2 separate regions of the Homo sapiens genome follow, and region 1 is linked to region 2. Evidence: fine-mapped expression QTL. Tissue or cell type: nucleus accumbens. Region 2 holds a variant in brackets; the other region holds the start of a gene. All regions are shown on one strand. Distances are between the middles of the regions.

The links. PIP is the estimated chance that this variant, and not a neighbour inherited with it, causes the effect.
Region 1: RPS23 starts here. The variant in region 2 is fine-mapped to the expression of RPS23 in nucleus accumbens (GTEx, PIP 0.95).

What each region holds. Positions count from the first base shown.
Region 1 is chr5:82,276,875-82,279,639 of GRCh38, forward strand. RPS23 (ribosomal protein S23) reads right to left here and starts at 1,480. Exons shown (of 4, transcript NM_001025.5): 1 at 1,446-1,480; 2 at 819-978. The coding sequence starts at 1,449. It also overlaps the pseudogene ATP6AP1L. RefSeq lists an enhancer at 1,471-1,800.
Region 2 is chr5:81,351,980-81,354,744 of GRCh38, forward strand. All of the region lies in intron 5 of ACOT12 (acyl-CoA thioesterase 12), which reads right to left. Among named protein-coding and RNA genes, the nearest start is that of ACOT12, 41 kb to the right of the region's middle. The variant G/A (reference allele first, on the strand shown) is at 1,276.

The sequences.
Region 1 (2,765 bases), 920 kb after region 2:
TATCTGAGGTAAGAATTAGAAAGTCTGGGCCGGACACAGTGGCTCACGCCTGTAATTCCAGCACTTTCGGAGGCCGAAGCAGGCATTATCACCTGAGGTCAGGAGTTTGAGACTAGCCTGGTCAACATGGTGAAACCCCATCACTACTGAAAATACAAAATATTAGCTGGTGTGGTAGTGGGCGCCTGTAATCCCAGCTACCTGGGAGGCTGAGGCAGGAGAAATGCTTGAACCTGGGAGGCTAAGGTTGCAGGGAGTCTTGCGCTACTGCACACCAGCCTGGGTGACAGAGCTAGACTGTCTCAAAAAAAAAAAAAAAAAAAAAAAAAGTCTGGGTTAAAATGGCTCTACCATCAAATATGATAGAACTATATGAAATTATTATTTTAAAAAGTCAAAACCAGTCAAATACTGGCAGTTTCATGTCTCAATCTTAGGTGTATGACCTCAATTAATTCTGATGCAAGTCACTTCTCTTCACCTTAGTTTTATCAAGTCGATAAAGTTCAATAGCTGACACGTGCCATTTACTTATAACAACTCCCACAGTAAAGGTGTTTGTGTCCTTTACTTCATCATTGCTAGTATCTTCTCCAATTCCTTCCAGGCCAACGTTAAATTAAAACCTTAACTACCTAATTCCCAAAAACTAATTTTACCAACTTTTAAATAGAACAAACGCTTTGCAATTTTACCCCACAATGCCCAAATGAATACTACTACACAAAAACCTGCAATTACTTTCAAAACAAGAATTCGTAAGTTCATGTCTCGAATTCCTATAATAAACTAAAACTTGACGGGAGCAATGGACTTACACTTTTTCCAGCACGATTCCTTTTGCATGAGAAGCACCTCCAAAAGGGTTGGCCTTTAGGGCTGTGCCCAAATGAGCTTTCTTATACTGTTTATCATGCCACTTCTGGTCTCGTCGGTGACTACGGAGCTTCCTAGCAGTACGAAGTCCACGACACTTGCCTAAAAATTAAATATTTTAGTTCTTCCGTAAAAACACGCCATCTACGTGTTTCCCATCTTCTAAGACACTCGCCTCACCTGGAATAAACCCTTAAGCCGATTGGCTCTCGTACTATTTATTGGCCTGTGGGCCAAACATTTGGCCTTCAAGTTGCCCTGAACCGACTAATAAACGTTCGAAGAGGGCTCCGGAGAATGTGTTCTCCCGAAGGACGAGGCCCCGCTCGAATGCCCGGGAGGAAGCGCTGGCCTCCCTGCGTCCCTCGGTACCCCGACCTCGGCGGCCTCCACGCCTCATGGGCCCCTTCCGCGCCGGACCACGTGCCTCCTGGAGCGGCGCTTCCCCGGCCCTCCCCCATGGAGCCTCTCCATGGCATCCCCCGCCCTACTCTATTCGCATCCGCCCGCCCGTCCCCAAGACCCCAAGTCCCGCTTGCAGCGCCCTTAAACCGGCCACAACAGCTCACCCATCCTGTCGGCGCCACGGGCCTGAGCGAAAGAGAGAAGCACCGCAGGAAGGAGCCACAAGCCACCGCGAGCAAGCCCCGCCCAGCCAAGGACCCCGCGCCGCTGTCTGCGCCGCGCCTGACCCGAGGCTGGGGTCTCTCCTTTGAAAACGACGCGTTTGCATCACTTTCCTGAGCCAGAATCTGCGTCTTATTTAATTTGCAAGAAATTCAGAGATATCTAATTTGCATGGTTTTTTTTCCCCCTTTTTCTTTTGAATGCTGGAGACCGGAGGAACATGGACTACCAATCCCAGAATGCGTTTTATGGGACCCGCTCACCGCGCAGGCGCTCTTGCCCAAGCCACTGAGAGCGGGACGCGGGGCTAGGTCAGAGTAGGAAGGAGTCGCTGAGCTGAATCTTTGTGGAGTGGAGTGGGGCGAGAGTCCTCCGAGTAGTCTGGAAAATTAGACTTCTGAGCCTTAATTCATACTTATAAGCAGCTAGTAAATTGTAAAATATAGTGAAGCAATGTAGTGTAGTAACTAAAACCCCAAGCTTTGGAGCCAGATTGGGCCTTTAACCCTAAAGTTGCCGTTTATTTTGACTGGCGAGTCATTTACTTATAGATTTATTTATTTTTATTTTTATTTTTTTCTGAGACAGGGTCTCACTCTGTCTTCTAGGCTGTTGTGCAGTGGTGCGATCTTGGCTCACTACAACCTCCGCCTCCCGGGTTCAAGCGATTGTCCCACCTCAGCCTCCTGAGTAGCTGGGATTACAGGCTTCCACCATCACGCCTGGCTGATGTTTGTATTTTCAGTAGAGAGGGGGTTTCACCATGTTGGCCAGGCTGGTGTCGATCTCCTGACCTCGAGTGATCCGCCCGCCTCGGCCTCCCAATGTGCTGGGATTACAGGCGTGAGCCACCGCGCCTGGCCATTTAATTAACTCTTTAATACTGTTTCTCCTGTAAGATGAACTAGCTGTGAGAGGTTTCTGGGATATTGGTTCACTCAGCAAGGATGTTTAAAAATGCCTTCTATGTGCCAGACGCTGTTGTAGGTACCGGGAATATGGCGGTTAAATTAAGAGGGTGAAGGTTTCTGCTCTGATACAGTTTATATTCTAAATGTGAGAGGACAGACCAGTTAGATAGATGTAAATTAAATAATTAAATAGATGATTTTTACATACTGTAGAGCTATAGAGAAAATATAGCTGGATGGGTGATAGTGACTTGGGGATGGGGGTGGCTACTCTGGATAGGGTAGTTTAAGGTGACATCTCTGTGCAGATGTAGAATGGGCTAGTGCTTTCTAAGAACTGAAAGATCAGTG
Region 2 (2,765 bases):
AAATGGCAAACAGGCATATAAAAAGGTATCGACATCACTGATCATCAGAGAAATGCAAATCAAAACTACAATGAGGTATCATCTCACCTCAGTTAAAATGCCTTTTATCCCAAAGACAGGCAATAACCAGTGCTGGTAAGGATGTGGAGAAAAGGGAACCTTCATACACTGTTGGTGGGAATGTAAATTAGTACAACCCCTATGAAGAACAGTTTGGAGGTTCCTCAAAAGACTAAAAACAGAACTATCATCAGATCCAGCAATCCCATTGCTGGGTATACACCCAAAAGAAAGGAAATCAGGATACTGAAGAGATATATGCATTCCCATGTTTGTTGCAGCCCTGTTCACAATAGCTAAAATTTGGAAGCAACCTAAGTGTCTATCAACAGATGAATGAATAAAGAAAATATGATACATATACACAACAGAATACTATTCAGCCATAAAAAAGAATGAGATCCTGTCATCCGCAACAACATGGATGGAACTGGAGATCATTATAAGTGAAATAAGGCACAGAAAGACAAACGACAAACATTGCATGTTTTCACTTATTTGTGGGAGCTAAAAATCAAAACAATTGAACTCATGGAGATAGCAGAAGCATGCTTATGAGAGGCTGGGAAGGGTAGTGGGAGGGTGGGGATGGTTAATGGGTACAAAAATATAGTTAGAAAGAATGAATAAGACCTAGTGTTTGACAGCACAACAGGGTGACTACAGTCAATAATAATTTAATTATATATTTAAAAATAACGAGTATCATTGGATTGTTTGTCACACTTGAAGGAGTGGATACCCCATTTTACATGATGTGATTATTGCACATTTGTATGCTTGTATCACAGTATTTCATGTATCCCATAAATATATACACCTACTGTGTACCCACAGAAATTGAAGTGTGTGTGATAGTGACGGTCTCTGAAGGTGGGAAGTGAGACGGTAGGCAGACTTACTTTTTAACTATATGCCTTTTTATGCGTTTTGCATTTTTTACCCTGTGCATGTACTATCTCTTTAAAAATAGTTTTTAGATAATTATAAATAAAAAATTAAGAGAAGGCCTTATGAGAGACATTGTAAAGACTCAAATATAAAGCAGCTCCTTCTTTTCTGAGGGATAACTTTAAAGAGAAACCACATACTTCCTATGAAGACATATACAGTATATACTGGAACCTGTAGAGGGAGGTGCTAGGTGAGATTATACGTGCACCAGCATCAGCTATGATACGTATGCAGAAATATATTGAGTTAGATGACTTTGGT[G/A]CAGAAGTTTGCTTATTTGGAGTTAATTTACAACCAACGAAAAAAATAGGGTTTTCCCAGGTTCAGAGAGCAATTCAGGCTCGCAGTTCTGGTTTGGGTTAAGTAAACAGAACTCACCCTTTCTGCTGGCTTTGAGTGATCAAGTTCAATACGTGTACTTTGGATGTTCTTAAAGTACTGTGTCATCAACCTGCTTTGACAACTTTACATTCACTCTACATTTGTAGATCAGGAACTTTGACCTGAATTGAGGTCATGCTAGCCCTAGTTTTCTTTCTGCATATCCAGAAAATTAACCATGATAATGCTCTTAAGATCTGATTTTCTTACTCAAAAATTAAATTAAAATGCTTTCAAATTTTAAGTTTTTCCCCTATATGTCAAGCTTGCAAATAATGATCCAGTAGTATTTCTGAGATGTGCGTGCTTATACACATTCCAGAAATATCCTGCTTTTACAAAACTAATCTCATCTCTTTTCTTTTCTTCCGAAAGGATATGATCTGGATTCAATGTTCTCACTGTTCTAATAATATGCATTTCCATCATACAACATCTTGAAAAATATTCCAATCTTTTATGTTTGATATTTATAACCAACACAAACCCCTGGTTTTCTAAAAACATGGTACAAGAACAGAGATGGGTTGGTTCTCTTCTTTTAGAACACACAATGTCCTATCAAAAACCAACTCCATCTGATCTAAGGAGCAGCAGGTGGAGAAATCACATACTACACAGCGGCTTTAAATGTCAGAGTCTGGCTCTTGCATTCTTTAAGATGAATTGCTTTTAAGTTCTCTGGCACCTTTGCTGGCATGGAAGTTAGTAAAATTTCCAAAAACAAAATCAGATCAGTGGAATTAGGTTAAAAGTTGTTTTATGTGAAAGGATGTAGAATAAGTTAGGGCAGATTAAACAAAGCAGATGATAAAAGAAGACTTTGAGAAAAATCTATAATTTGAAATTGAACTTTGAACTAGACATGTAGATGTAGATCTAATCTGGCCAACTTTGTAACACACTGAAACTCAAGTCAATTGCAATCGTTTTATCTCTATATTTGAATGACTGTCATGTGTGCCTGTCACTAATTTAGACTATCTCCAGTATTCAAAGTACTGTTAGTGTTGTGCAGACAAATTGTCTGCTGCTGATTTCACTTATTAGTGCAACTTGCACAACACCAGAAGAAGCCGGTGCAGCCACCCATGTTTACCTGGCTCTTGTTACCTTGAGGGGGGTGTGAAGACAGCTTCAGTCACCATCCTAGCAACCCTTCCCAATAGACGAACCCTCGCAAGGGAGCTCAGGGTAGCAGAGATCCCCATTCCTCCAAGATAAAAACATGACAACAATTTCCCAGTGTCTAAAGTACAGATTTGACACGAATTATCTCTTTCTTTTATAATTAACTTCTTCCTCAATAATTATTTTTATCAATTATGTCTTTTTTTTTTTATTTTTGAGTCAGAATCTGGCTCTGTGGC